7 linked regions of the Homo sapiens genome follow. The protein of the gene in region 3 purifies or fractionates together with the protein of the main gene of each other region. This does not show direct contact. Each region holds a gene or a part of one and is shown on either strand. Other genes may lie near its edges. The genes, in order: SEC13, ZNF174, TPD52, CALU, CLIC4, TSPAN3 and PAIP1.

What was found.
Region 1: the proteins of TPD52 (region 3) and SEC13 fractionate together in Homo sapiens (co-fractionation; one large-scale study listed by BioGRID). This does not show direct contact.
Region 2: the proteins of TPD52 (region 3) and ZNF174 purify together in Homo sapiens (co-immunoprecipitation; one large-scale study listed by IntAct). This does not show direct contact.
Region 4: the proteins of TPD52 (region 3) and CALU fractionate together in Homo sapiens (co-fractionation; one large-scale study listed by BioGRID). This does not show direct contact.
Region 5: the proteins of TPD52 (region 3) and CLIC4 fractionate together in Homo sapiens (co-fractionation; one large-scale study listed by BioGRID). This does not show direct contact.
Region 6: the proteins of TPD52 (region 3) and TSPAN3 fractionate together in Homo sapiens (co-fractionation; one large-scale study listed by BioGRID). This does not show direct contact.
Region 7: the proteins of TPD52 (region 3) and PAIP1 fractionate together in Homo sapiens (co-fractionation; one large-scale study listed by BioGRID). This does not show direct contact.

What each region holds. Positions count from the first base shown.
Region 1 is NC_000003.12:10,299,197-10,304,112, forward strand, and holds the end of SEC13 (protein SEC13 homolog), read right to left. Parts: coding exon 4,830-4,916; intron 2,179-4,829; coding exon 2,065-2,178; 3' UTR 1,952-2,064; coding exon of another isoform or gene 1,910-1,951; 3' UTR 1,735-1,909; downstream 1-1,734. UniProt on the Homo sapiens protein: Functions as a component of the nuclear pore complex (NPC) and the COPII coat. At the endoplasmic reticulum, SEC13 is involved in the biogenesis of COPII-coated vesicles.
Region 2 is NC_000016.10:3,404,215-3,408,273, reverse strand, and holds part of ZNF174 (zinc finger protein 174), read right to left. Parts: intron 3,849-4,059; coding exon 3,626-3,848; coding exon of another isoform or gene 3,501-3,625; exon of another isoform or gene 3,366-3,500; coding exon of another isoform or gene 3,286-3,365; exon of another isoform or gene 2,233-3,285; intron 1-2,232. UniProt on the Homo sapiens protein: Transcriptional repressor.
Region 3 is NC_000008.11:80,052,301-80,057,034, reverse strand, and holds part of TPD52 (tumor protein D52), read left to right. Parts: intron 1-3,604; coding exon 3,605-3,753; intron 3,754-4,359; exon of another isoform or gene 4,360-4,429; intron 4,430-4,734. Other genes in the region: TPD52-MRPS28 protein, read left to right, coding at 3,605-3,753.
Region 4 is NC_000007.14:128,762,901-128,767,634, forward strand, and holds part of CALU (calumenin isoform a precursor), read left to right. Parts: intron 1-4,555; coding exon 4,556-4,734. UniProt on the Homo sapiens protein: Involved in regulation of vitamin K-dependent carboxylation of multiple N-terminal glutamate residues. Seems to inhibit gamma-carboxylase GGCX. Binds 7 calcium ions with a low affinity.
Region 5 is NC_000001.11:24,814,239-24,818,972, reverse strand, and holds part of CLIC4 (chloride intracellular channel protein 4), read right to left. Parts: intron 1-4,734. UniProt on the Homo sapiens protein: In the soluble state, catalyzes glutaredoxin-like thiol disulfide exchange reactions with reduced glutathione as electron donor. Can insert into membranes and form voltage-dependent multi-ion conductive channels.
Region 6 is NC_000015.10:77,050,524-77,054,109, forward strand, and holds part of TSPAN3 (tetraspanin-3), read right to left. Parts: intron 2,407-3,586; coding exon 2,254-2,406; intron 1,946-2,253; coding exon 1,862-1,945; intron 1-1,861. UniProt on the Homo sapiens protein: Regulates the proliferation and migration of oligodendrocytes, a process essential for normal myelination and repair.
Region 7 is NC_000005.10:43,535,786-43,540,519, reverse strand, and holds part of PAIP1 (polyadenylate-binding protein-interacting protein 1), read left to right. Parts: intron 1-1,484; coding exon 1,485-1,596; intron 1,597-3,575; coding exon 3,576-3,701; intron 3,702-4,734. UniProt on the Homo sapiens protein: Acts as a coactivator in the regulation of translation initiation of poly(A)-containing mRNAs. Its stimulatory activity on translation is mediated via its action on PABPC1. Competes with PAIP2 for binding to PABPC1.

The sequences.
Region 1 (4,916 bases), on a different chromosome or scaffold from region 3:
TGGGGTCTCTGGCTTATAGCACCATAAAAACTCCCTTTTCTTCACCCTGCTGATCTCTCAGAGGTATTGTGTCTATGAAGGCTTTGGCCTGCTCCATGTTCTAGGGTCTGTGGGTTTCTTTTGCTGTCCCAGTTGCTTTGTTTTTGCAAAAGGATTAAAAACATATGGCTGCTAGCGCCATCTGGCCCTAACCAGAGCTCTATGCCTTTTAAATTTCCCTTACTTTTATCTCATTTGGGCTTGACAACTGCCCGGCAAGTTTTACAGATAGTATTTCTATTTGACTAGGCTATTTTGTGGTAATAAATTTTGGGGTCTCCTCTTACCCAGGAATGGTTAATGTGTTGCCACTCTAAGTATAAACAACTATTATGGTGCCAACTTCATAATTATCTTAACCAATCCTTGGTGGTGGGAGTTAAAATAGAGCACACAGTCAGGGACCCATTAACCTACCACCAACCCAGAGTGACACGGGACTAGTTCCTTCTCGGTATTTTCTTGGCGACAGCAGCTGGCACCATAGGAAGCCCAGGCCCAGGCTTGAGGAGCACAGAGCGTATCAGGGAGGCAGACGTGGATATGGTTCAAGGATTCACTGTAGAACTCGACACTCAGTAGTGCACGTGAAGGTGCCTTCCTGGGCTTTGCTTTTCTGAGTAAGGGAAGGAAGGAAGCAGCTGTTTTCATGTTGGTCTCAGAAGGCTTGGGCTTTGTGGACTGACTGGAGGCTGACTGGGCCAGGCCATGGCCTCTCTGTCCTCACCTTTAACCAAAGCAGTTTCACTTTCTTCTATGTTACATAGTATGATCAAAGATTTTTTTTTTTTTTTAAAGGGGATTTTGCTGCTGAAAAAGGAGGGAAGGACAAGAAGTAGGCAGACTAGGGGGCCTGAGGCAAGTGGGCTGACCTTTTATCTGAATCTATTCATACAAAGGTTTGGTGTGAGAAACATCCTTGTATTACAGCTGAGGAGAGCCCCCCAGCTCCCACCCTGATTCTACAGTGGGGAGTAACTGTTGAGATGGGCCAGGCCCTGACGCTGGCTTTACGTTTGCACAGTCCTGGGCAGGGCTTCTACCTTCTGAGCGCTTCCTCATCAGTGAACTGGGTACACCCACACGGGGTTCTCGTGTTGCTTAAATTAGCGAATGTGTGAAAGATCCAGTGTAGGGTCTGGCTCACCGCAGGCTCACTGATGGCTATGGCGATTGTCAGGGTCACAGGGCCTCCGCTGAAAGGTGATACCTGGTTCAGGGTCAGTTAGGTCTCCCATCATGGGGCCCTCCTTTTCCTGACAGGGTCAATAAACTAAATGAATCGTGCCCACTTTCTGGGCCAGCATCTTAACTATTGGTGTTTGGTTAATACCACGTTGCACCTGCGTGGCATTTTGTAGGTCACCAGATGCACTAGCGTGTTTGAATCTTGCAGCCATCCTGTAGGGCAGACTGTATTAGTCCCATTCTGCAGAACAGGATGTGTACCGAGAGGGTAAGTAGCAGACCCAGGGCTACAGTCCTTGTCACCAAAGGCTGAGTCCAGTGCTCTGTATGGTGCTTTCAGTATAAACTGAATCAGAGATGCTCATGCAGTGACAAGCCACCTTTGTGCGTGGGGTTAAGCCAGGCCATCACAGCCGTGGCCTTTGTGAATAGTTTGTTCTAGTGCGTGGACCGACAAGAGTCAAACTGAGCTGGTGGGGTGGGGTGGTTAGGATAACGCAGCAGGAATTATAAGCAATATGACTTTATTTAGTTCCTTTGGAAACAAAACCCCCCAAATAATGCCTGAACCCAAAGGTACATAAAAATGACCCAAAATAGATTTGAACATCACTTGTAGTTTCTTCCTCGTAACATGAGTGCTTTCAGCTGGACAGTAGATTACAAAGCATCTCCGATCACGTTAAGGCAGATGATCAATCTGTGGCTGCATCTGTAACTCCTCCTGGGAAAATAATCCTGTTGGAGTTGGGGGCTCTTCCCAGTTGTCTGGTTAGTTGGCCCAGGAAGGGGCAGTCCTGGAGCTGGCGGGTGGGGAGCCAGGCCCCACCTGTCTTGTCACTGCTCGTTCTGCTGGCCCTCTGTCACTGATGCTGATACGGAGCCCTGGCCCTTGTTGACATCACTGATGCACACCCACTGCCCATCAACTGACTCCTTCCACAGGGTCACCTGCGAGTCAGTGCACAAGCAGATTATCACGGGTCTGTGCCCTTCCCTCTGCTGTCCCCTAAATATGAGCCTCATCCTCATCAAGAACCACTGCCCAGAGGCTTGTGGGTGAACAGAGCATGTCCCTCCTCCACTGAAATCTCACCAAAATGAGAGTCCAGGAATAAAAACTCACAGAAAAAAAGGAGTAACAATAACAGCAGCTGTGGATGATGATGTCAACACAGGATACTGTTTTCAGCAAACTGTGACAGAGCTACAGCGAGAGGATATGGGGTGGCGGGGAGCAGGGTTCGCAAAGTGTGGTCCCCAGACCAGAGCAGAGCATCGGTCACCTGGGAGCTTGCTACAACTGCAGATTCTTGGGGCCTGGAACAACTGATTAGGAAGCTCTGGGGGTGGGGCTGGCAATCTGTTTTAACAGGTTTAACAACACTGCAGTTTGAAAACTACTGTGGTAGAGGAAGGTAACAGTTCAATATGTTGTTTCTACACTGAAGTAAACTGTATAAGAAATAGCTAAGAGCTGAAAAGGTTTGCCCCTGGAGAGAAAATTAGGAGGCTGCATTAAAAAAAATCAGTCTAGGTCGGGCATGGTGGCTCACGCCTGTAATCTCAGCACTTTGGGAGGCTGAGATGGGTGGATCACCTGAGGCCAGGAGTTCGCGACCAGCCTGAACTGGTGAAACCCCATCTCATCTCTACTAAAAATACACACAAAAAAACTAGCAGCCACCTGTAATCTCCCAGCTACTGGGGAGGCTGAGGCAGGAGAATCGCTTGAACCCAGGAGGCGGAGGTTGCAGTGAGCCGAGACTGCGCCACTGCACTCCAGCCTGGACGACAGAGCGAGACTCGATCTCAAAAAACAAAACAAAAAACAAAAACAATCTAAACCTATGTACATATATTAGTTTGATTAAAAATGAAAATAACGATTTTGATTTTAAGAACTCTTGCTTTAGGGACAAACTATTCACTCAACACACTGCAGAATGCTCTGGGATTGAAAACATACTAAGTCCTTTAGGTAAGGGTGCTATGGAGACAGCGAAAGGAAACAGGCTTGTAAAGAAGAGCAAGAAGCCTAAATGCACAGTGACGGGCCCCACAACACTGCGTGCACAGCCAGGCACTTGCTTACAGCCTTGTAAAAAAGTCACTGGGGGCCTGCTTGAGGCAATCTGGGTCCCTTGGTCTGCCCTGAGTGCCATCAACCTGGGTTCTGGTCCTGACTCTGGCACTCACTAGAAATATGGCTTTGAGAGGGGGCCTGCTAGATCTTTCTGGGACCACTGTAGATGAAAGGGACCCTCGGCCAGAAAAGCCGCCTGCAGAGGCTCTCAAGATCTGCACACCCATGTTCACAGCCACACTATTCGCAATAGCTAAGAGGTGGCAGCAGCCCAGGTGCCCTTTGGTGGAGGAATAAGTGTAGAAACAGGGTGTGGGCTGTCTATACAATGCAACACTACTTAGCTTTACAAAGGAAGGAATTCTGACACATGCTACGTACAGCATGGAGGAACCTTAAGGGCATACTGCTAGTGACATAGTCGCAAAAGGACAAATACTGTATGATTCCACTTAGATAGGTCGCTAGAGCAGTCACATTCACATAGACAGAAAGGAGAAGGGTGGCTGCCAGGGCTGGGGAGGGGCAATGGGGAAGGGAGTTATTTAATGGGTACAGAGTTTCAATTTTGCAGCTGAAAAGAGTTCTGGAGACCAGCTGCTTCTCTGCCTTGCCTGTGTTGGTTGTGCCGTGAGCCACACAAATGAAAGGTAAGACATGGAGCCAAAGTGGCCACTGGGAAACAGTAAAAGACCAACATAGGCAAGGGAGAGAAGCAGCAAGGGCTGGCAGGATCCAGACCAACTCGCACTTCAGGCGCAGAGCAGATGTGCCTGAAAACGCAGCACAGCCACTCCACGTGGAACTGACCCTGCGGCGTTAGAGATCCTCTGTCTTATAGGGGAATTCAGCTGGGCAGATGGCTATGGCTTGTTACTGCTTCCTTTCTGCGGGTAGCTTTTTTCCTTCTAATTGTAAAATACACGTCACATAAAATGACCTTGGCCACTTTTAACTGCACAGTCCAGTTGTGTGAAGTACATTTGGGTCCCTGAGCAGCTGGTCTCCAGAACTCTTTCAGCTGCAAAATGCAAACTCTTCCAGTGCACCCACTGTGTACCTGCCTCTTACCAGCATAACAAGTATTCATAAACTCTAAAGGTTTTTAAAAAGCCTTTTCAGTGTTATGGACAAAAAATATCCCCAATCTTCTTCTGTTTATGGGTTCTTATACACTTGCCTTTTTGGCACAGCTAACTGAACATCACCATGAGGTGACCAAATGCTTAGTAGGGTGATGGGCCTGACTGGCTCTGCCACCTCATAGTTTTGGGACCCCCATGCAAGTCAAATCGCCTCTGTCAGCTTCTTTCCTCATCTGTGAAAGGGGGACGTGTTAATACTACCTCAGGGGCTGTGACATTAATGATGTAACTAAGAGGCACACTCAAAACGCAGTCCTGGCTAAGGCTCCTGCCCAGCCTGCAGTCAGATGGGAATGTCAAGTGCCCTCTCTAGTGGGCGGGGTGAAGACCAACAGGCTGTGTCCACCATGCCACGGGGAATGGGTATGTACCTTATTGTCTCCACCAGAGACAGCCAGGATGTTGGCTGTGATGGACCAGCTCACATGCCACACCACATCGTTGAACTTGTGCAACAA
Region 2 (4,059 bases), on a different chromosome or scaffold from region 3:
ACTTCAGCAAGAGTTATGAAATACTCTGAGAGGTTTCTCAAAGGGTGGCCCTCCGCTGGCAACTTGCATTAGACTCATCTGGAGCACTTGTTAAACAAGCAGGCTCTTCACCCTTCCCCCAGAGCTGCTGGGTCAGAATCTCGGGGGGTTGGGCCTGATAATCTGCACAGTTAGCAGGCTCCTGGGGTGACTGTGATTTATATTAAATTTAGGAACCAAGTTCTCCATCCTCCTTCTTCCTTTCTCCCTTTAGGGAAAGGTTTAGGAAATGAAGAACAGGGAAAAGCAAACCCATCAGAATTGGGTATCTAATGAAGAAGGAAGAGAGGTGAAATCTCAACATTGCAAATTTTACTGCTGTAGTCCAATGCCTGAGCTATTTCAACAAATACCCCTCACTTAGTAAACACTAATTGACAACCACCTTCTCTTCAAAAGATGGTAAGTTCAGAGACTGTGATGTTTTCTTTCATTACAAATTTGACAGTATATGAGTTCAGAAACTGGAATCAGGGCTTAGCCATGTATCCTAATTACAGAAGGATTGACAGTCTGGATGGAGATGAGCTGGAACGGCCTATGGGAAATCACAGGATCTGGAGAAGGATCCCTTGTGATGTGGAAAATGTGTGTGTGCACACGTGCATGCACAGGCACATGCACGTTGTTCAATATGGCAGCCACTAGCCACATGTGACTATGTGGCTACTGGGTACTTGAAATGTGACTACTGTGACTAAGGAACTTAATTTTAAATTTTTTTTTAATTTTAATTCATTTAAATTCAAATGTAAATAATCAGCCTATACAATCAGGGTCAATTGCTTTTTGACAAGACAATTCAATGGGAAAAGAATAGTCTTTTTCATAAAGGATTCTAGGACTACTGGATTTCCACATACAAGAGAATGAAGTTGGACCCTGCTATGGTCTGAATGTTTATCCCCCCTGTCCCCTGACACACATATATTGACAGTCCCCAGTGCAGTGGTCTTGGGAGGTGGGGCATCTGGGAGGTGATTAGGTTATGAGGGTGGGGTCCTCATAAATGGGATTAGTGTCCTTATAAAAGAAACCCAAGAGACTACCATGTGGGGACTCATAGCAGGCACCATTTATGAGGAATGGGCCCTCGCCAGACACCAAATCTGCTGGCACCTTGATCTTGAACTTCCCAGTATCCAGGAACTATGAGCAACAAATTTCTGTTGTTTATAAATTACCTAGTCTAAGGCAATTTGTTGTAAGAGCCTGATCAGATTAAGACAGACCCCTGATCAGATTGACAGACCCCTACCTCAAAACCTATATAAAAATTGACTTGTTTATGTATGGGGAAAAAATAAACTTAAAATGGACCAAATAGCTGAAAGTAAGAGCTAAATCTATGTCTCCTTGAAGAAACCATAGCTGTACATATTTGTGCCCTTGGATTAGGCAGTGCTATTTTACATATGACACCAAAGCATAAAGAAAGAAAAAAATAGATAAATTAGACTGCAGCAAAATGAAAAACGTGTGCGTCAAAGGACACTGTCAAGAAAGTGAGACAACCCACAAAATGAGAGAAAAGATTTGCAAATTACACATAAGGGTCTAGTATCTAGAATACATAAAGGACTCTTATAAAAAATAAAGACAAATAACCTAATTTAAAAATGACCAAAGGATCTGAACAGATATTTTTCCACACAAGATATGTAACTGGATAATAAGCACATGAAAAGATGTTCAACACCATTAGTCACTAGGGAAATGTAAATCAAAACCTCAAATCAAAATTTCTCACCGAATAGGATGGGTATAAGACAATAACAAGTGCTAGCAAGAATGTGGAGAAATCGGAATCCTCACACAGTATTGGTGGGGATGTAAAATGGTGTAGCTGCTTTGGAAAACAGTCTGGTAGTTCCTCATAAGTTAAACATGGAATTACCACATGACCTAGCATATGGTAATTCCACTCCTAGGTATATACTCAAGAGAAATGAAAACATGTCTACACAAAAACACACATTTATAGCAGCATTCTTCATAATAACCAAAAAGTAGAAACAACCCAAAAATCTATGAACAGATGAACCAACATGAACAGAAAACCAACATGTAATATATCCGTACAATGCCTATTATTCAGCCACAGAAAAGGAATGAAGCACTGATTGATGCTACAGCATGGATAAAACTTGAAAACATGCTCAGTGAAAGAAGCCACACACAAAAGACCACATATTGTGTGATTCAATTTATTTATTTATTTATTTTTGAGACAGGGTCTTACTTTGTCACATAGGCTAGAGTGCAGTGGCACGATCTCAGTTCACTGCAGCCTCGACCTCCCAGGTTGAAGTGATCCTCCTGCCTCAGCTCCCCCAAGCAGCTGGGATTACAGGTGTGCAGCACCATGCCCCGCTAATTTTTGCATTTTTTGTAGAGACAGGATTTCGCCATGTTGCCCAGGCTGGTCTCGAACTCCTGAGCCTAAGTGATCCGCCTGCCTTGGCCTCCCAAAGTGCTGGGATTACAGGCGTGAGCCACTGTGCCCGGCCTGTGTGATTCCATTTGTATAAAATGTTCAGAATAAGCAATTCTAGAGACAAAAAGTAGACTGTGGTTGCCAGGGGCTAAATGTTTATGTTCCTCCAAATTCATATGAAATTCTAACTCCCAAGGTAATAGTGTTAGGACATGGGGCCTTTGGGAGGTGATTAGGTCATGAGGGTGCTGCCCTCACTGGAATGGGATTAGTGCCTTCATGAAAGAGCCCCACGGGAGCCTGTCTTCCCCTTCTGCCACATGAGGACTGAGAAGTAGGCAGTCTGTGACCTGGAAGAGGGGCCTCACTGGAACCCAACCATGCTGGCACCTTGAACTCAGACTTCCTAGCCTCTAGAACTGTGAGAAATAAACTCCTGTTGTTTATAAACTACCTAGTCTCTAGCATTTTATATTAGCAGCCTGAACAGACTAAAACACGAAGTACCTCATTGGATGTAGCAAATATTAAGAAACTGAGGATTTTTGTCGTCTTGTAACCCTCCTCCCTAACGTGCTCACTGTATCTTGTATTCACATCACCAGGCTTGGCCAAAATGTCACTGTCATTCAGGCTTAGAGATCACAGGACTGTGTAGAACAAGGCCAGCAGTTACACAAGTATCACACCAGAGAAAGGGAAATAGATTTGAGGATCTAAAGTACAAGCAACATCACAGAGGAGGACAAAGATATAAGATATAGGGTGGGTTTTTATTTCTACCAGGCCCCTCTAAACAGAGGAGCATTTTAAGCAATGAAACTCAGCCATAGCTTGCATGGAAGTTCATCTGTGGCCATATTTGGATCTGTCTTTTCTATAAGAAGTTCTGAAACGGACAGAAAAGTAGGTACAACCCTGTCATGCACTGGATTCTTAAATTTTCATTAACAGAAAACGATAAAAACATACTTACTTGTAGTATCACCACCATCCTAATTAGTGAAATTTGTTTAGTGAATAATCATCTACTATTATATATAACATTTAAAAAAACACACACATGTGGTCTATGCCTTTGCAGAACCATGAGATACATTGATGGAGATAAAGGGCTGATGAGAGGGAGAGAAAAGGCAGAGTGTTTACCTGTCCCAGCCAATTTGGGGGTTGGTTCTTGGAGGAGTGGGGATTTCTCCCAATGATGGGGGCTCAGCCGGTCATAAGCTCCTGCCTGGGAAGGCTCTGCTGGAGAGCTCTCCCTGAGATCTCTCCTAGGAGTCTGCGGTTGAAAGTCTGGCAGTTCCTGTTCTCCAAGCTGAGATCCAGTTTTCTCCAAGAGCACCTTTTGCCCCTGCATACAAACGGCCACCTAGGAACAAGCCCCATCCATTAATTCCATCCATCAGGACTGAGGGAAGCTTGATCTCTCACTGTTGTATAATGACCCGTTTACCTTGGGAATTGCTGATAACCATCTAGAGGTCAACTTTCATAGAAACCACTGAAACCCTCAAAGGAAGTAAAGGGGAGAACGTGAAGAATGACAGGAATGAGGATGCTACAAATCAGCCGAGTGGCTT
Region 3 (4,734 bases):
CCACCATGCCTGGCTAATTTTTGTGTTTTAGTAGTATGGGGTTTCACCATGTTAGCCAGGCTGGTCTCAAACCCCTGACCTCAAGTGATCTGTCCACCTTGGCCTCCCAAAGTGCTGGGATTACAGCCGTGAGCCATTGCACCCAGCCTGGATGTGTTTTCAATTCTCTTTGTTATATATACCTAGGAGTGGAGTTGCTGGGTCATATGGTAGCTCTATGTTTAACTTTTTGAGGAGCTGTCAAACTGCTTTGCTGCCCAACTTCATTTTACATTCTCACCAGCTGTGTCTGAGGGTTCCAATTTCTCCACATCCTTGCCAACACTTATTAATCTCTGTTTTTTTTAATTGTAACCATCCTAATGGGTATGAAGTGGTATCTCCTTGTGGTTTTGATTTGCATTTCTCAAATTACTAATGAATGGTGTTAAGCATCTTTTCATGTGCTTATTGGTCATTTGTATATCTTGGGAGAAATGTCTATTTAAGTCCTTTGCCCATTTTCTAATTGGATTGTCTTTTTATTGAGTTGTAAGTTTCTTTATATGTTCTAGATACTAGACTCTTATTAGGTATGTAATTTGCCAATATTTTCCCCATTCTGTTGGTTGTCTTTTACTTTCATGACAGTGTCGTTTGAAGCACAACCTGTAGGCATCCTCCCTTTCCCAACCTCTAACACCCACAATTTTACTCTCTACTTAGATGGGTTCAGAGTTTTTTCTTGGCGTCCACATGTGAGTAAGAACATGCAGTATTTATCTTTCTGTGCCTGATTTATTCTGCTTAACGTATTGTTCTCTAGGCTCATCCATGTTGCTGCAAATTACAGGATTTCATTCTTTTTTATGGCAGAATTGTATTCCATTGTGTATACCACATTTTCTTTATCCATTCACCTGTTGATGGACACTTGGGTATTGTAAATAGTGCTGCAATAAACGTGGGGGTGTAGGTACCCTTTGATACACTGATTTCCTTTCCTTTGGATAAGTAACCCAGTAGTGGGATTGCTGGATTATGTGGTATTTCTATTTTAAGTTTTTCTGAGAAACCTCCATACTGTTTTTCATAGTGGCTGTACTAATTTATATTCCCAGCAACAGTGTATAAGAGTTTCATCTTCTCTGGATCCTTGCCAGCATCTGTTATTTTTTGGTTTTTTGATAACAGGCATAATAACAGGTGTGAGGTGATACCTCATTTTGATTTTGATTTGCATTTCCCTGATGATTAGTGATGTTGAGCATTTTTAATATATTTGTTGGCCATTTATATGTCTCTTCTGAGAAATGTCTATTTAGATCCTTTGCCCACTTTTTAAATGGGATTGCTTGTTTGTTTTGTTGTTGAATTGAGTTCCTTGTATATTTTGGATATTAGTCCCTTGTCAGATGAATAGTTTGCAAATGTTCTCTCCCATTCTACAGGTTATCTCTTCACTCTGTTGATGATTTCCTTGAATTTAGTCCCATTTGTCTATTTTTGTTTTTGTTGCCTGTGTTTCTGAGGTCTTAGCCATAAAATCTTTGTCTAGACCAATGCCCTGAAGTGTTTCTCCTATGTTTTCTTCTAGTAGTTTTATGGTTTTGGGTCCTTAGTCCATTTTGAGTTGATCTTTGTATATAGTGATAGACACATCAGAGATTCTTAATCATGCTCTTTATGCTTTTAAAGTCACTCTGTTTTACATGTATATATTGAATTAAGGAATCGCAGCCATGATGTGCTGGGCTAGGTGTGTTAGCAGCACAAGCTAACCAACAAAGGTGGGGAATATACTGTGTTGTGCATTGTTCAGAAAGATTTAGAGTGGTTTGTCTTTGCAGCTTTCATTAGAGGAAGTGAGTACCTCAGAGAAGTGCTAAGGGGTGGGAAACTTACCATTTAAGTCTATTCTTAGAAGTGTCTGAAGCTTTGGAGCCTGAAGTAGAGACAGAGGAAGTGGGAAGCTTAAGAGAGTGTACATGAGAATTCAGCCAGTAAACTGAGACGTGCATTCAGAAAACCTAGATAGGAATTCTGGTTCCTACATTATTTGTTTGATGACTTTGGGCAAATCATTTAATTTACTTAATTTTGAACCTTATTCTTTCCTCTTTTTTTGTCCTTTTCTTCTCGTATTCCACTTCGTCAATGTACATCTTAAAATGTGACTTACAAAACTGGGTCCAGTACTTGTGACTCTGACAAGCACAGGGGATTATTTATTTGTTCTGAGGGACCTCTGTTCCAGTTAATCTTATCTGAGAGTGGTGTTGTAGGTTCTTTTTCTTCTTTTTTTTTTTTTCTTGGCAGCTGCATCACATTTGATTTATCCTTTTCTCCGTTGCACTAATTTTCTTTGTTTTGTGTTCTCTAAAGACTTAAACATCTGTGAAAACATTTGACTGAGCAATACTCTATGTTATTTTTAAAGGGCATGTTGTCTTTGAAATCATAGAAATACCGTGCAGGTTGGGGCTGAAAATATGGCTTTGCAACAAGCCAGGAGACGCATTTCTCTGAGGGTCTTGAATGTTAATGGATATACTTTAGGGACCTAGATTTTCAATTTCCTGGGACCTAAAGTCTCTTCCACATGGTGTCTATTTCTCTCTGAAATAGGCAGTCCACCCTTTTCCCTGTTTCTGAAATAGAGAGTCTACCATTTTCCCTGTTTTCCTGGATTAGCCTTTTGTTCTACTCTGTCCATTTTTTCCTTTTCTTCATAGCTTCTGCTTACAGTTTTAGATTCCTCAAGCATATTTAAGCTTTCCATACCTCTCATAATCTCACTGTAGCCTACCTATACCTCAAGGCTTCTTCAAGTTTTTTCAGCTTCTACTTGCAATGTCATCTCACTTCTCAAACTAGATTCCTGAGTGAGAGAGACGAATAGTTGAGCACCTCTTTTCACACTGGGCTCATCCACTGGCTCTTGATGGGTGGCTGTCCATGGGTCAGGGCCCACCTCTAACCACCTAGTCAAGTCTGGGCAGTCAGCATCAAGGGGTTCACATGAAACCCTTGAGAGCAGGGATCTCCTGAGGAGGCGGTTTGATTTATTATGGCCATGACTTTGCCAGACACAGGGACTGAGTATATGTATCCAGTATATATACTCATATCAAATATGCAAGGAGATTGGATTTGGGTTTGGCTTGGTTGTGTGTGTTTTGGTAGGGGATGGAGATTATTTTGATTTAGTATACAAATACAAGTTTTGTAGGCATTCAGATAGAAATGTCTAGGCTGGGAAGGCAGACCCACAGGTCGGGAGAGTGGATGTTAGAGTGCTTTATTAAGTATTATCTGTGTAGAAATTTGAGTCCTAAACCTACATGAGATAGCTGAGTAAGGAAGTATAGGGAGAGAGGAGAAGGCCAAAAACAGCTTAAGATGGGATTATAAAGAGCTCCCATGGAGGAGGAAAGAGAACTCTACAGGAGAGATCAGCAAGTAACCAGTTTACTCAACAACATTATACATTGTTTTTAGAGAGAAAGATAAATGATTCAAAAAAATGTTTAATGACTGGAATTTTGGATGTAGTTCTGTGGTAATAATCTTAACTTACTGAATGACTTTTGCTATATTCTTACCCCAAACCCCTTCCTCATAGGTAGAAGAAGAAATCCAGACTCTGTCTCAAGTGTTAGCAGCAAAAGAGAAGCATCTAGCAGAGATCAAGCGGAAACTTGGAATCAATTCTCTACAGGAACTAAAACAGAACATTGCCAAAGGGTGGCAAGACGTGACAGCAACATCTGCGTATGTTTCCTTGATCATACACTTTCCTTGGGAGTGTAAAGGACACTGTTGTGCCTTTTGTCTGGAGAGGGGAAGAAAAAGAGGATAAGGATGCTTCAGCAGCTTTTCTTTGGACGACACGGCACCCTTTTTTTCTGATTTTCAAGTGTGCCTGCCTTTTTTTGTAACTTCAATTTTTCCAGACCACTTATTCTAAGGAATAGAAAGAAAGCTAGCCAGTTGGAGAAATAAAATTCAAATCCCATAAGTGTTATGTATTGACTTGCCACAAATATGTACATTTTGTCCTTTAGTACTCAGAATAACCCAGTAAGAATGGGTGGCAAGATAACCCTGGATAAGGAAACAGGCTCAGACAAATTAAGTTTTCATGTCACAAACCTCTCAAAATGTGGAGTGGGAATTCAAACTCAGGTCTGGAGCCAGTCTTTATTATTATTATTAATGTATTTTTTTAACCTTGTTGTGTAGGTATCAAAAGATTCTCAGGTCGTAGTCTCAGATATATGCTCTTGGCAGAGGTCAATCCCTTAGGCTTTTTGTCTTTTTGACCACACATGCTATGATATAGCATTATCATAATGCAGTTTTGTTTCCCGGCACAAGGAGGAGCAAGCTTCTAGCAGCAGAAACCGAACTGCTCTGTCTTCTGTATTGAGAGCCATCTGCAGAGCTGGTGAGCACAGAAGTTGTTTTACAATTTAACTATCAGAAGTGAGGCCAACTGCATTTAACATGACAGTACTTGAGTCCCCAGTCTTTTGGTCCATTTTCTACCCATCTAAGTTGGCAGTGGGAAAACATACAGGAAACTATTTTTTCAACAGTATTACCATGAACCATGTTTTTTTATTGGTATTTGATCTTGACAGGGTAAGTAAAAATGCCTGAGCATTCTTTCCCATAATGTGGGAATTGTTTTGGTAGGTACGATATTATTTTGTTTTTTGTTGTTGTTGTTGTCATCATTTTTTTGTTTTT
Region 4 (4,734 bases), on a different chromosome or scaffold from region 3:
AAGTGATCTGACCACCTTAGCCTCCCAAAGTGCTGGGATTACAAGTGTGAGCCACTGCACCTGCCCCCAAATTAGAATAGTATAATGAATCCCCATGTACCTATGCCTAACCTCAACAACAATCAACTTACAGCCAGTTTTTTCTCAGCCACATCCACTTCCTTGCTTCCTTCTTACTTTGAAGTAAATCCCAATCATTATGTCATTTCATCTGTAAACATTGAGGTATATATGTCTAAAATATATATGTGTTTCTAAAAACATTTTTTTAAAGATAATGTCAACCCAAGAAAATTAATAATACCTTCAAATCATCAAATAGACTGAGTCTTTTAAAAATAGAAATTCGGCCGAGCATGGTGGCTCATGCCTGTAATCCCAACACTTTGGGAGGCTGAGGTGGGCGGATCACAAGGTCAGGAGTTAGACACCAGCCTGACCAACCTGGTGAAACCCCGTCTCTACTAAAAATATAAAAATTAGCCAGGTGTGGTGGCATGTGCCTGTGTAATCCCAGCTACTCAGGAGGCTGAGGCAGGAGAATCGCTTGAACCCAGGAGGCGGAGGTTGCAGTGAGCCGAGATCGCGCCACTGCACTCCAGCCTGGGCGACAGAGCAAGACTCTGTCTCAAAAAAATAAAGTAAAATAAATAAAAATAGAAATTCAAATAGTTTATCATGGTCACCTAGCTTTAAAATGCGCTTACGTTGTAGTGTATTGTGTATTCTAGCTTCCTTTAAAACCATATCTTTTAAGCATGTGTCTATTTCCTAATTCAGAACTTTCCAATCTGTATCCTGTGAGTAAGTCTTCTTGGCTTTCAGGACAGCTAGGGCAGGAACCTGATCCAGTGGACCGTACAAACTACATTTTCTGAATGTGCTGTAGCATGGGAAAAAATTGGCAAGTCCTGCTGTGAGGAATTTCTCTTGTGAGTTTAAGACAGAGGAGTACTTCTACCCTTAACCCTCAAGGTCAGGAAAATGGCAGCACTGACTAAATAATTACCTTTGCTTAGAACTTGCAGGAACTATTTAGATTTCTCTTTAGGTGTTTTCCCATACCTTACATGCAATGCAGGTACACTTAACTTAGATGTCGTATAACTCAAGCATTTTCAGACTTGTTCACTTAAATAACTCCTGAAAGAATTTGACCAACAGCATTCCCTTATGTGTTTTAAAGTTGGCATCTGAAATATTTAATTAAGAAATTTAAACAGTTGTAAAGAATAGTCTCTGTTGGGCCGGATGCCGTAGCTCATTCCTGTAATCCCAGAACTTTGGGAGGCTGAGGCAGGTGAATCACTTGAGCCCAGGAGTTTGAGAACAACCTGGACAACATGGCGCAACCCTGTCTCTACAAAAAATACAAAAAAAAAGAAAAAATTAGCCAGGCATGGTGGCGTGTGCCTGTAGTCCCAGCAACTCAGGAGGATCACTTGAGCCTGAGGGTTTGAGGTTGCAGTGCACCGTTATTGTACCACTGCACTCCAGCCTGGGCAACAGAGCAAGACCCTGTCTCAGAAGAAAAAAGAATAATCTCTGTTGGTGATAAGCATTGACATTTTGAAAGTAATTCGGAAAGAAATCTATAAAATTTAAATACAAGATACCATAGCAACTTCTTACCTGCCGTCTTTCATATGAATAATTTGGACACGACAACTTTAAAAAGATAATCAAGAAATTTAAATTCAGTCTGGGTATTAGATGATACCAAGGAATTGATTTTGTAAAATATGAAAGTGGCATTGTGGGTATATAAGAAAATATCCGTAATTTTTTACATTTCATAATAGTTAAAAAGGAAATGTTTCTTTGGTACTTTTTTTTTTTTAGTTATGGCGTTTGGTTAGCAACAATGTGACCATCACTTAATTGCCCTTTTTTTTGTTTAAATTTATAGGGATTTGGGGATATTTATACTACTTATCAGTCACCACATGATATTGTCTTAAAAAAATAAATGAATAAACTGTTAACCAACTTGGACATTTTACACGCATCCTGTTTCTTCTTCTTCTTCTTTTTTAAAAAGACAAGAGTCTCATTCTGTTGCCCATGTTGGTGTGCAGTGGCACAATCACAGCAGCCTCGATCTCCAAGGTGGGGAGATCAAGTGATCCTCTCACCTCAGCTGGGACCACAGAAGAGCACCACCACACCCAGCTGATTTTTTTTATTATTATTCTTATAGACATGGGTCTCCCTACATTGCCCAGGCTGGTCTGGAAATCCTGGGCTCAAGAGCTCTACCTGCCTTGGCCTCCCAAAGTGCTGGGATTACAGACATCAGCCACCCGACCTCCTGTTTCTTTTTTTTCTTTTTCTTTTTGAGACAGGGTCTCACTCTGTCACCTAGGCTGGAGTGCAGTGGCATGATCATGGTTCATTGCAGCCTCGATCTGCTAGGCTCAAGCCATCCTCCTGCCTCAGCCTCCCGAGTAGCTGGGACTGTAGGTGCATGCTGCCATGCCTGGCTAATTTTTGTATTTCTTGTAGGGATTTTGCCATGTTGTCCAGGCTGATCTCAAACTCACAAGTCAGCCTTCTATTTGTTAGATTCATTTGCAGTTTACTTCCTCAACAGAATTATATTCTGACATATTTTATCTTGAAGCCTTAGTCACTTTGACATTCTTATTTGCAAGAACATTGTGTATGTAAATTGAAATATGGAAAATGGTGTTCTGTGATATGGCTCTTAAGTGTTTTTAGAGTCTTCTGTGTTAAGTTACTATTACAATTATTAATACACAATTGAACAAAATAACATTTATTACAGACGTTTTATGTTTATATATTTTTAAATGCATTTCTTTGACACATTTTTATTCAAATAGTTTCATATCCATGGATGACAATTACTTATCCCTAGAGTGAAATGGGATTCAGCACCAATTCCTAATTTTTATTTTTTAGAGGAAGTACTAACAGACCTTGTTTACATTAGTAAATAAGTTGATGGAAGATTTGTCATAGCAATATTGCTTAGTTCTTGGAACTCCTTTTGAGTTACATGCCAGAAATCATGTAATCTATCATCAAAAATTATGGGTTTTGTTTGTTTCAAGGTGGAGTCTCTCTCTCTCACCCAGGCTGTAGTACACAGGCACGGTCTCGGCTCATTGCAACCTCTGCCTCTGGGGTTCAAGCGATTCTCCTGCCTCAGCCTCCCCAGTAGCTGGAGATTACAGGTGTGGGCCAGCACGCCCGGCTAATTTTATTTTTTATTTTTAGTAGAGACGGGGTTTCACCATGTTGGCCATGCTGGTCTCAAACTCCTGACCTCAAGTGATCCACCCGCCTCAGCCTCCCAAAGTGCTGGGATTACAGGCATGAGCCACTGCACCCAGCCCAAAAATTATGTTTAATGATCCCTTAGCTAAAACTCAATTAGGCCATTTTTCAAGGTTTTTTTTTTTAAAGCAAAGAATTTAAAACCTTTTGACATGCAAACGAATTTATTCATTTTTTTTCAGGCATTTGCATTCTCAAGACTGACACTAGTATTTCTTTTTCTTTTTTTTTTTTTTTTTTTTTGAGACGGAGTCTTGCTCTGTCGCCCAGGCTAGAGTGCAGTGATATGATCTCGGCTCACTGCAACCTCTGCCTCCTGGGTTCAAGTGATTCTTTTGCCTCAGCCTCTCGAGTAGCTGGGATTACAGGCACGCACCACCATGCTCAGCTAATTTTTGTATTTTTAGTAGAGATGGGGTTTTGCCATTTTGGCCAGGCTGGTCTCAAATTCCTGACCTCAGGTGATCTGGTCTCAAACTCCGACCTCAGGTGATCTGCCTGCCTAGGCCTCCCAAAGTGCTGGAATTACAGGTGTGAGCCACCACGCCCATCCAGACACTAGTATTTCTAATTGTTTCTTTTTCATTATCTTGGAGCTTTTTACACTCTAGTTTCAAAATGGTTGAAAATATGCCTTTCTTTTATAAAGTGGGACAAGGGCAGTTGTGAAAGGGGGGAGATGGGAAAAAAGCCTTGATGGCCAGAGGTACATTCTTATGAAGATCAATTTTTGGAAAAATCTATATGTGGAACTGAGTATCTGGAATTTGATTCTCTCTTGACTGACCTTTCTCAGTGTACTCCTTGACAGTGTTCCTGTTTCCCCAGGGGCGTGCTTGTCCCAACTGAAGGCCACTGGTATAATGGACTCTTTGTAGTAATTGGCTACACCTTTCTAAAACAAGTGGTCCCGTTTAATTAGCTACCTTAGGGTGAAATGAAATGTAGGGAACGAGTCTAAGTCTTTCTTGATGGTAGCTCTCTCCTCTTATTTCTGCATTTATTAAGGTATAAGAACTCTTTGCTCTCATGTGACTTAAAATCAGCAGCTGGAAATATTCTTGTTGCAAGATAAGTGATTAAGCCTCAGGAAAATACCTTGCTTTCTAAGGTCTGTCTGGCCTAAAATACCCTTGTAGCTGCTGTTGGGTTCCAAACAAATGGATGAGGAAAAAGGGTTAGGCCAGATTAGCATGAGGCAGTTTTGGGGAAAAGACAAACCCTTCTTTTGTATGTATGTCTGTGTACCCAGGTGACATGTACAGCCATGATGGGAATACTGATGAGCCAGAATGGGTAAAGACAGAGCGAGAGCAGTTTGTTGAGTTTCGGGATAAGAACCGTGATGGGAAGATGGACAAGGAAGAGACCAAAGACTGGATCCTTCCCTCAGACTATGATCATGCAGAGGCAGAAGCCAGGCACCTGGTC
Region 5 (4,734 bases), on a different chromosome or scaffold from region 3:
TACATATAATATTAATAATAATATACATTACATACTATTTCTGTATAGTATGTGTATAACATATATGTTTATACTATTGATTTAAAATGACTCTTCTGCTCTGGAATACCTGTCACTCCTTTGTTCAACTGCTGAACATCTTTTTTCTTTTTTTTTTTTTAAATTAAGACAGTTCAAGTGTTCTCTCTTCTCTAAAGCCTTTCCTGATTCCATTCACTTCCCCGTCCCACCACCATAAACACCTCTCCACCCATACATGACTGTACTTGTTGAGGGCAAGAACTGTGTTTTATTTACTAATATATTCACAGTGCTTTGTAGTCCATTAATGCTTTGCAGAATGAATAAATCAATAAATAAATGAATGGATGAATACTGAGTAACTGGGCCAGGTACAGTGGCTCACACCTGTAATCCCAGCACTTTGAGAGGCCGAGGTGGGCGGATACCTTGAGGTCAGGATTTCGAGACAAGCCTGGCCAACATGGTGGAACCCCATCTCCACTAAAAATACAAAAATTAGCCAGGCATGGTGGCAGGTGCCTGTAATCCCAGCTACTTGGGAGGCTGAAGCACAAGAATCACTTGAACCCAGGAGGCAGAGGTTGTAGTGAGCCAAGATTGTGCCACTGCACTCCAGCCTGGGTGACAGAGTGAGCCTCTGTCTCAAAAAAAACAAAACAAACAAAAAAAAACCAAATTGAGTAACTTCAGGTATAACTTGTCTTATTGTGCTTTGCTTTATTGAGCTTTGCTTCATTGTGCTTTGCAGATATTACGTTTTTTACAAATTGAAGGTTTATGGCACCCTGAGTCAAGCAAGATGGCGCCATTTTTCCCAGCAGCATGTGCTCACTTCATGTCTCTGTCACACTGTGGTATTTTTCGCAATATTTCAAAACTTTTCATTATTATTGTATCTGTTATGATGATCTGTGATTAGTGATCTCTGATGTTACTCTTGTAATTGTTTTGGGGGCACCACAAACCACACCCATATAAGACAGCACACTTAACTGATTAATATCATATGTGTTCTGACTGCTCCAGTGATTGCTGTTCCCCTGTCTTTCCCTCTCCTCAGGCCTTCCTGCTCCCTGAGACAAAATAATGTTGAAATTAGCCCACAGTTGATGACCCTACAATGACCTCTCAGTGTTCAGGTGAAGGGAAGAGTCACATATCTCTCACTTTAAATCAAAAGCTAGAAATGATTCTGCTTAGTGAGGAAAGCATGTCGAAAGCTGAGACAGGCCAAAAGCTGAGATAGGCTGAAAGCTAGACTTCTTCCACCAAACAGCCAAACAGCATATACAGAAGAAAAGTTCTTGAAGGAAATTTAATAGTGCTATTCCAGTGAACACACAAATGATAGAGAAAAACAGCTTTATTGCCAATAGGGAGAAAGTTTGAGTGGTCCAGATAATCAAACCAGCCACAGCATTCCCTTAAGCCAAAACCTAATCCAGATCAAGGCCCTAACTCACTTCAGTTCTATCAAGGCAGAGAGAGGTGACAAATCTACAGAAGAAAGTTTGAAGGTAGCAGAGGTTGGTTCGTGAGGTTTAAGGAAAGAGGCCATCTTTGTAACATAAAAGTAAAACATGAAGCAGCAAATGCTTATGCAGAAGCTGCATGCAGCCAGTTATCTAGAAGATCTAGCTGATCTATCTAGAAGATCTAGCTGATCTATCTAGAAGATCTAGCTGATCTATCTAGATCTTCCTTCATCACCTTCATCTGATGATCTATCTAGAAAATCTGATCTACCTTCAACAATGATCTATCTAGAATTGATCTTCTAGATAGATCATTGATGAAGGTGGCTACACTAAACAGATTTTTAATGCAGACAAAACCTTCTATTGAAAGATGTCATCTATGATTTTCATAGCTACAGAGAAAAAGTCAACGTCTGGTTTCAAATCTTCAAAGGACAGGCTGACTCTGTTAAGAGTCTAATCCAGCTGTTGACATTAGGTTGAAACCCATGCTCATCTTCCATTCCAAAATTTGAAGAACCCTTAAGAATTATACTGAAGCTACTCTACAGATGCTCTATAAATGGAACAATAAAGCCTGGATAATGGCACATCCATCTGTTCACAGTATGGTTTACTAAATATTTTAAGCCCACTGTTGAGACCCACTGCCCAGGAAAAAAAGATTCCTTTCTAAATATTACTGCTCATTGACAATGCACTAGTCCCCCCAGAACTCTGATAGAGATATACAGGGAGATCATGGTTGTTTTCATGCCTGCTAACACAACATCCATTCTGCAGTCCATAAATTTTGACTTTCAAGTCTTATTATTTAATAAACACATTTCATAAGGCCATAGAAAGTGATTCCTCTGATGGATCTGAGCAAAGCAAAGTGACCTGGAAAAGATTTACCTTTCTAGATGCAATTAAGAACATTCAGCCAGGTCTGGTGGCTCATACCACACCTGTAATCCCAGCACTTTGGGAGGCCGAGACGGGCGGATCATCTGAGGTCAGGAGTTCAAGACCAGCCTGGCCAAAATGGCAAAACCCCAACTCTACTAAAAAATACAAAAAAATTAGCTGGTCATGGCGGCAGGCACCTGTAATCCCAGCTACTCAGGAGGCTGAAGCAGGAGAATTGCTTGAACCTGGGAGGTGGAGGTTGCAGTGAGCCGAGATCGCATCACTGCACTCCAGCCTGGGCGATAAGAACGAAAACTCCGTCCAAAAAAAAAAAAAAAAAAAAAACACGAACATTCATGATTCATGGGAGGAGGTCAAAATAGCAACATTAACAGGAGTTTGGAGGAAGTGGATTCTAACCCTCATGGACGACATTCACAGGTTCAAGACATCAGTGGAGGGAGGAACTACATATGTGTTGAAAATAGCAAGAGAACTAGAATTAGAACTGGAGCCTGAAAATGTAATCAAATTGTTCTACCTTCATAATAAAATTTGAATGGATGAGGAGTTGCTTCTTATGATGAGCAAAGAAAATGGTTTCTTGAGATAGAATGTATACCTAGTGAAGATGCTAAGAACATTGTTGAAATGACAACAAGGAATTTAGAATATTACATCGACTTAGTTGTTAAAACAGCAGGAGGGTTTCAGAAGATGGATTCTAATTTTGAAAAAGGTTCTACTGTGGGTAAAAACACTATCAAACAGGGGTGCATGTTCTCAGGACCTCTTGAGATTAGCCTCAGGCAAAGAATATTTACTTTAAAATTTTTAAATGCTATCAAACACTATTGCATGTTACAGAGAAATCTTTCATGAAAGGAAGAGTCCATCAATGTAGAAAAATTCATTGTTATCTTACTTCAAGAAATTGCCACAGCCACCCCAACCAGCAATCACCATTCTGATCGGTCAGTAGCCAGCTACATCAAGGCAAGACCCTCCATCGGCAAAAAGATTGACTCGCTGAAGGCTCAGATAACCATTAGCATTTTTTAGCAATGATTTTTTTTTGAGACGGAGTTTTGCTTTTGTCACCCAGGCTGGAGTGCAGTGGCACGATCTTGGCTCACTACAACCTCTGCCTCCCTGGTTCAAGCAATTCTCCTGCCTCAGCCTCCCGAGTAGCTGGGATTACAGGTGCCTGCCACCACGCCCAGCTAATTTTTTTTGTATTTTTTAGTAGAGACGGGGTTTCTTCATGTTGGTCAGACTGGTCTCGAACTCCCAACCTCAGGTGATCCATCCGCCTCAGCCTCCCAAAGTGCTGGGATTACAGGCATGAGCCACCACACCCAGCCTAGCAATGAAGTATTTTTAAATTAAGGTACATGCAATATTTTCAGACATAATGCTATTATTGCACACTTAAAACACTACAGTATACTACTGTAAATATAACTTTTACATGCACTGGGAAACGAAAAATTTCACGTGACTCATTTTATTCCAATATTCATTTTATCACTGTGGTCTGGAACCTAACTCGCAATGGTCTGGAACCATACCCTTCAGGGTATGCCTATAATTATTTTAGAACCCTCCATCTCAATAATCCCATTCCTGGAAAATATATCTGGACATGGAGGGCAACAGTCAAGTTAACCAGTAAGAAAGGTTTTGGTCAGTAGAAACAAAACATGTCAATTTTCAGGATAATGAAACTGGAAAAGCCTAAAAGAAACAAATAATGCTTTGAATCTATGCCAATATTACAGTATGATGCAAAGCTGCATATCTGCAATTTAGGTAACTATCATTACAGTACATCCAGGACCTAGAGATCTGGAACACCTCAAAGAAGTAAGTAAATAAAAACTCTGAATCCTAGGGACACAGTCGGAAAAGTCAATGTCCTTGGATTATAGCTTTAGAAAGTTACCTTTAAAATGAACTGAAATCAAATCTCATTGCAGTCCTGTGCCACACTCCTGCTAAGACATTCTTACTGGGTTCAGTTGGAATGTGTCTTTCCCCACCCCTTCTCCTCTTTAAACTTCTCTCTCAGTTTGAGACCTACAGTCCACAAATAACCAGTCTTTCCTGACCTATCAGACACATCCCAAATCTGTTTCTACCACATATTCTACAGCTTAGACAAATCCCCACCTTTCTTAGTATGGCTGATTGGCCTAGCTGGAAGCCAATTCTTATATCTGTGTAGCATTAATTATAAGAAACATAGAAGAGAGTCCTAGTCATTCCAAATTAATGCTGCGAGAAAGATCTCTACTGACAAATAACACAAGCTTCAAAGAAGTGACAATATTTTCATACG
Region 6 (3,586 bases), on a different chromosome or scaffold from region 3:
TAGATGAGGGACATAGCTAAAGTGATTATTTTTATCAGTCTTCTATATACATGTTGCATATTTCATGACCACAAGTACCATACAGTTCCAAAACTTTTTTGCTGCATGCTAGTACATGTGGCTTTATTACTGAACATAAAATCATTAAGAATGCACAGTTCAGAATTCTATTTGGGAAAAGAGACCTTCCTCATATTTCATTATTTTTAGCTAAATGAATGTGTTTGCATAAATAATCAAAATATGAAATAAATCCCTGCTGATCATCAGATTACTGCTATGCAGAGCTACAGAGTAAATGCTTAGAAGGGCAAAGACCATGGCAAATAAAGAGGTAGGCTTTTTAATGAATCATTTCAGGGCTGTCTGAATATCAGCAAAGTAAACAATCATCCTTTTGCCATTTTAAAAGGCCTTTCCCATTAAATACACTAGCTTCTGTTCAAATATACAAAGAGCAAGCAATCCAAGCAACTTACATTTAAACTAGCAATTACATTGGTTTTATTTAACAAATAAAAGTTATCTACATTTTTCTTTTTTAAAAAAAATTTTTTTTTTGGTAGAAATGGAGTCTTATTGCCCAGGCTGGTCTCAAACTCCTAACATCATGGGATCCTACTCCTCGGTCTCCCAAAGTGCTGGGATTACAGGTGTAACCCATCACACCTGGCTCTTTTAGCTCTTGAAATAGGTTTCAGGCTTAAGAAAGCATAAGCTGAGGCTGGGCGCGATGGCTCACGTCTATAATCCCAGTACTTTGGGAGGCCGAGGCAGGTGGATCACCTGAGGTCAGGAGTTCAAGACCAACCTGGCCAACATGGTAAAAACCTGTCTCTACTAAAAATACAAAAATTAGCTGGGCATGGTAGCGGGAACCTGTAATCCCAGCTACTTGGGAAGCTGAGGCAGAAGAATCACTGGAACCTGGGAGGCAGAGGTTGCAGTGAGCTGAGATCACACCATTGCACTCTAGCCTGGGCAACAAAAGCAAAACTCTGTCGTAAAAAAAAAAAAAAGAAAAGAAAAGAAAAGAAAGCATAAGCTGGGTGCGGTGGCTCACGCCTGTAAATCCCAACACTTTAGGAGGCCAAGACAGAGGATTGCTTGAGGCCAGGAGTTTGAGACCAGCCTGGGCAACATAATGAGACCCCATTTCTGGAAAAAAAAAAAAAAAATTAAAAATTAGTCTGGTGTGGTGGCCCGTGCTTGTAGTCCCAGCTACTGGAGAGGCTGAAGCAGGAGGATCGCTTGAGCCCAGGAGTTCAAAGTTACAGTGAGCTATTATCATGTCATTGCACTCAAGCCTGGGTGACAGAGTGAGACCTTGTCTCTATTTTTAAAAGTTGTTGTGTTTAGTGCAAGAGACCAGTGCTGTAGTACCAGTTCTTGATTTACGTATATGAATATATAAAACCTGTGAGGACAGAAAAACAAGAACTAGAGGGAGAACTAGCATACAAAAAAACTGAATAAAGCTTTGTATTCCCAAACTGAAAGAAAGAAGTACAATTTTTAAAAATTTTGTGACATTCTAATAAAATATCTTCCAAGAATACACTAAGACAACAGTTCGTTTATGTTTTGAACAGGTCACTCACTAATCAAGAAAGACAGTAAGACGAGGAGTTCCCTCAACACGTGGTCCCTCCCCATCCAGATTTCTGGTTTCTTTAGACCATTCCGGGTCTAGGTGTATAGACAAGAAATGGAAAACATGGGAAACTGGAGGCCAGTACCTCAGTCACTTCCACATTACCTACATACACAAAGATTCACTGTGATGGGGATTAAAACCATTCAGGGCTGACAACAGAGAACCAACTCACTCCGATAGAACTCCTTGGCAAGCTGTGCTTACCTGAATAGCTGCAAATGCCAGTGCGGCCCAGATCACATGCATCATGATTTCTTGTAGCTTCTTCACTACTAGAGCCTCACACCCCTGTAACAAACACAGTCATCCTCGTTAGAAGTGTTCTTTAAAAGTTAAAGCTGCAGATTCACAGGCCACTACCCACTTACAGAAAGGAAAATGACAGAAACTGAAAGAGTGGAAAAAAGATTCCATGATTGGTATAATTTACAGACATGTAATTAAAACAAAGACATGCATTTTATAATAATTTACAGTAAAACAATATATGACATTAAAGACAAGCAAGGTGGCAGAAAAGAAGTCCCAGATGGTGATAAGACATGGTGAAAAACAGGTTAATCAAGCTAGACTCAAGTCGTGGCCAAGAGACTCACCTCAGCATAGAGGTCGGAAGGGTGGGCCAGGCTGCCATTACAATTGCTGGCAGTCTCTCTGCAGCAGCTAAGAGGGACACTCTGGTTTTTGGTTTCTTTGAACCAATCTGTATTTTCCCAGTCTGAGTAGTTGTGAATTCCACAACAATGCAGCTAAAGGAGAAGAGAATAAGTATTATTTCTCACAAAAACCAAATACCTGAAGTTCCATGTACTACAGAGCTTTAAAATAAGCTACTCTAGACCAGTGATGTCCGATACAACTTTCTATAATGGAAAGTCTGCATGATCCAATATAGCAGCCACTAGCCACATGAAGCTCTACTGAGCACTTAAATTGTGGCTAGTGTGACTAGAAAACTGCATTTTAAATTTTAATGTAAACAGCCAGACATGGCTAGTGGCTCCAGAATCTCCATATGAAAAGTACATTGCCAGGCCGGGTGCAGTGGCTCACGCCTGTAATCCCAGCACTTTGGGAGGCCGAGATGGGCGAGTCACCTGAGGTCAAGAGTTCAAGACCAGCCTGACCAACATGGTGAAACCCCGTCTCTACTAAAAATACAAAGGCTGAGGCAGGAGAATCACTTGAACCCGGGAGGTGGAGGTTGCAGTGAGCCAAGATCGCGCCACTGCACTCCAGCCTGGGCAACAAGAGTGAAATTTCGCCATCTCAAAAAAAAAAAAAAAAAAAAAAAAAAAAAAAAAAAAAAAAAAAGAAAAGAAAAGTACATTGCCTATAAGCGGTAGTTTCTAACTAAGGAAAATCTTCATGTCTTACATGTTAAATATCTGGTTCCATGTTAAATATTATTTCCAATGACAAAGTATTTAAAATATTTGGTCTTAAAAATTTTGAGATTTGCTTTAAGATAATGAAGCAAAAAGTAAGTAGGGGCAATAAGACTGACGAAAAGTTGATATTACTGAGGCAAGGTCGGGGTGCAAACATCTATTACACTATTCTTTCTACCTTTGTGTGTATCAGACTGTCCATAACAACTTTTTTTTGACAGTTTTTCTGTTGCCTTTTCTTATCTTGTTTTCTAAAGGTATATATAGACCTCCCACCTCCCCTGGAGTCAATCTGGACTCCCACCTTTCCTGTGACACATACCTCTCTCTTGCGTCATCACCCCTTTGGCTAAGTACTTTGGGAGAGTACAGACTGGGGTCAGGGAAGGGGAAATCAGATGATAAAAAAAAGTTCAAGATGTTTCTCATCTGGCTAGGTGATGAAATAAACTTTTCAAGGGTGAAGGTTGGGGAAAAATATTGGTCACATCAGGATAGCCATGTATGTGAAGAAACATGGCTAATTTACACAGAAATA
Region 7 (4,734 bases), on a different chromosome or scaffold from region 3:
TGCTTTTATAATTGAAAATCTTTAGCTTAAAAATTTGACTTTTCACCTAGTCAATTATGTAGGTATTTGTTTGCATGTACATAATCATATCCTAACGTACAGTCTGTCATAGCATTTTATGAAAAAAAAAGTTATTTCATCAACTCTTACCGACAAAGTTGTAACAGAAAAGCAGCCAACAGGTGTTTTTAAATAACTGATTTGGCATTAATTAACTGATCTCTTCCATTATTAACCAGAATGTACTATCTATAAATATCCCAACTTTTTTCTGATGAGGAATTTAATATGTACAAGATGATAACAAATATCTTACCACATTTGACTTAAACAGAAGATGTTGCTCAGTTAATATACCTCGTAAACATTGGAATTGGCCACGTAAGCACAGTAAGCTGTGCTGGGGTTTCGTGGTTGGCAAACTGACCCAGAGTCAATTACTGAACAAGAGGTAATTTATTTTTTCTTTGTTAAAAATTGTTTACAAAGTCAACCTAAACTGGCTGCGTGGAAACCATTCAGTACCCATAGCTTTTCCCTTTGTCTTGAAAAGGAAAACTGTCAAAACCAGTTTTGTGAAGCAAGTTACTTTCCCAGAGTTTTCTCACCTTATCAATAAAGATTACAAATACTTAATAACAAAATGATAAACTTTTACAGTCCATTTAAAAAATCTATGTTAGTAACAATATCTGACACTGTAGTTCACTTATGAAGGCAGTGACAGGATTATTGTGCCTAGTTTAGTTACCTTGTAGGAACTATGACTGACAATAAGCTCCAAGAAGAGGATTTCTTCTTTTTCTCCTCTGTGTGAAGCAAATGGGTCAAGTCAGGGGCAAAGAGAGCAAGGAAAAATCAGTTATTTGAAGCTGTCAGTCTCATTGGAAATAGAAAACAAGTCCGGTGCTTTCTATATTGTGGTTTTAATGGGGGAATTTTTTCCTCACATTAGTACTTCTCTGATACGTATAATGGAAATTACAAGAATAATGGACTTAAAAACAATTCATTTTATTTTCAGTTGGAGGTTGTGTGTGTGTGTGTGTGTGTGTGTGTGTGTGTGTATTTAAAGATCCTTTTCAAAGTTGTAGTATTAAAAAAAAAATTACAGAGACAATTTGGGTAAAATCAGTGCTTTCTTAGTAAAAAACCTATAAGACAAGGTGAGGCTCTCTCTCCCCTCTTTGGGCTGCCAGTATGCTGTGAATCAGATTACACCTATGTTGCTTAAACATATTAAATTTGATAAAAATCGTTGAAAATAAAACTATCAGTTTTTTCAAACTGGGAGACTTAGTATGAAAAGATGGTGTATATTCTAGCCTCTTCAATAGTCAGGAACAGTTTCTTTATTGTAGAAAGAGCATTGGGACATTGTCCTTGCCTCTTGCTGTGGACAACCAAACTGACAAATGGTTATTTTGTTTGACTATTTAAAAAGCAAAGCAATGTGAGATTATAAAAGATATGTCTTTAATTAGATGTCGGACTGAATATGAAGTTAAAGATCAAGCTGCAAAAGGGGATGAAGTTACTCGAAAACGATTTCATGCATTTGTACTCTTTCTGGGAGAACTTTATCTTAACCTGGAGGTGAGAAGTTTTTCTTTTGTTAAGTACTAACAAGGCCTGAGAACATAAGTTGATCTCAATGAGGAATTTGTGTTCACATTGTACTTTTACAACATTAAGAGTGAAATGAAAGAGAGAGGAAAGAAAACATGTTTCGGCACCTGCTAGTGTCTGTGGTTTACTGGACCGTCTGTCCATAACATTTACTCATGGACAGAATGTTAGGAAATAATTACTGAGGTAAAAATCTGCGTACTTTTAGGAAGCTGTGGTTTACATGCAAATTTAAGTTCTTGAGATATCAACAGTGATACCTTTTTGAGTTCTTACATCTTATATATTAATACATTTAGTATGTTGACTTTCAGATGGTGGCTCAAAGCAGTTTACTCTGCAGAACTCTGAGTGAAAAGAGAGACTAGAGTCTCTCTAGGCTTTTCACTCTAATTCACCCAAATAGTTTTTTAAAAATATTTTTTTAATTGACAAAAATTATATCTTTATGGTACACAACACTTTGATATATGCATACATCGTAGAATGGCTAAATCAAGCTATTTAACATATGCATTACTTGACATACTTTTTTGTGTTAAGAACACTTAAAATTTTTAGCAGTTTTCATGTATACAATATATTGTTAACTATAGTCATCATGGTGTACAAGAGATCTCTTGAACTTATTCCCCCTAAATGAAATTCTGTGTCCTTTGACCAACATCTCCCCAATACCCCAACCCCTAAGAATAGTTCTTTTTTGTCCTATTTTATATATTAATCTTCCACATAAAAATGCATTTGTACAAAGTCTACAGCTAAACGTATTTATAAATTTGGGTGGTATACTTAAGTATATGCTTGTTAGTAGGCAATAGAAGTGCTGGATTCAGCACGGCATTATTACTGTGTAATAGATTTGCTTGATTTTTTTTTTTTTTTTTTTTTTTTGGGTGGGGACAGTCTCGCTCTGTCACCCAGGCTGGAGTGCAGTGACGTGATCTCGGCTCACTACAACCTCCGCCTCCCGGGTTCAAGCGATTCTCCTGCTTCAGCCTTCTGAGCAGCTGGGATTACAGGCACGTACCACTATGCCTGGCTAATGTTTATATTTTTAGCAGAGATGGGGTTTCACCATGTTGGCCACGCTGGTCTCAAACTCCTGACCTCAGGTGCTACCCGCCTCAGCCTCCCAGAGTGCTGGGATTACAGGCATGAGCCACCATGCCCAGCCTCTGCTTGATTTTTTAAATTAGTGAATATCAGATATAAGCTTATACCTTCTTACACCCTGATTTGAGAACTTAAGATCGTAAACGCCATAATATCAGAAACATCATAAGACAATGTGAATCTATCAAATGTGCATCTCAGTCATTGTATCTAAAAGGTCTATGTCCAGTCCAGAGCCTAACTTACTATGCCTTTTTACCACAGGTAGACTTAGTTTTTTGAAAAATCTTATGCCATGTTCTTTTTCAGTCTAATTTTTGTTTAAGCCAAAATATGGACAGCAATCTAAAATAAATACTGTTGAGCATTTTCTATATGGAGATAATGATGCTAGGTCAATGGGGGATGTAAAGATAAGGCTTAGTTCCTGCACCTAAAATTCTTCTACACAGTGATATAAGATACATATACCACTCTGATGCAAAATACCATATTTTAAAATATTTTAAAAGCAGAATAAAATGCTGTGTGTTCAAAAAAAAGTGGTAGTTGAACAAACTAAAGAAAGCTTTATGAAGTAGTAACATCAAAGTGGGCTTAAATTATGCTGACTCTGGTATTAAATTTTACCCATAGCTTACCAGTTTTATTAGAGGTCTTAGTTACATATAAAGTAATTCTAACAAATTCTGTGAAGATATCAGAGTGTGTTCCTGTGACTTTTGTGATTTAGCTAAAATGCTTATTTTGCCAACACCTTGTTAGTTCATTTATGTATCTGTATTATATTTTGGCATCATTCCTTTTGTTCTTTTTTTTGGTCCCGAAAGATCAAGGGAACAAATGGACAGGTTACAAGAGCAGATATTCTTCAGGTTGGTCTTCGAGAATTGCTGAATGCCCTGTTTTCTAATCCTATGGATGACAATTTAATTTGTGCAGTAAAATTGTTAAAGGTAGGTTTTTTTTTTTAATTTAACTAATTTACGTATTTACTTATGATTTAGAGGAAGGTTAGTCTATATAGTATACAGATGAATTCAAGATTTATCACTTTAAGGTAAATATTGACATTTTACTTTTTTCTCGAATATTTTGGAAAAGCGAGATATACTTATTGTTTAATATATGAAGCAAGTTCAGAAGTGAAAAATGGAAGTCCTTTACGCCATTTCCATTTGCAAATTCTGTCTTCTTCCCTTCTTATCTCTGTATATGTGCTCTTATTAAATAAGATCTTACTCTGTTCTGGCTTTTTGTTTTTGTTTTTGCCACCTAATGAAACATCTTAGATTTTTCCATGGCACAGAGATTTACCTCTTTTATTGAATAACTTCCTAGTATTCTGTCATATGCATATGCATTGTTTATCCATTCCGTAACATCTATCAATGTTTACTAATGAATATTTGGATTATCTTCAGTTTAGCCATGGCAGCATTGCTTGTAATCTTTCCTCTTGTCATATATATGTGCAGATACTTTTGTAGGTTAAATTCTTAAACACGGATTTGGTGGGTGGACGAGCATATGTATTTTACGACAAGTAATGGCTAATTTGCCTTCCAAATGCTGAACCAGAGTATAGCCCCATCAGCAGAATGAGTACATCTCTTCCTACATCCTTATAGTGATGGATATAATCAATCTTGGTTTTTGTTTTGTCAGATGATTTTAAGCATTTCTTCATGTTTATTAGCCATTTGTTTATTATTTCCTATAAATTACCTGTTTAAATCCTTAACTGATTTATTTCCTGATGAAATGCATGTTTGTGTTTTTTTTTTTTATTCAAAGCTTCTATACTTGTTGCTTGCTGTATATTTCAAAAAAAGTGACATGTTCATTAAAATCTAATAGCCTATCTTAGTCATACAGGGAATATAACAGTCGTTGACATAAAACCCATGATTAAAGTTCTGCTATTGTTTTTTTTGTTTTAGTTTCTCTCAGTCAAGAGAAATATAGAGGGCGTAGAGATCACTGAAT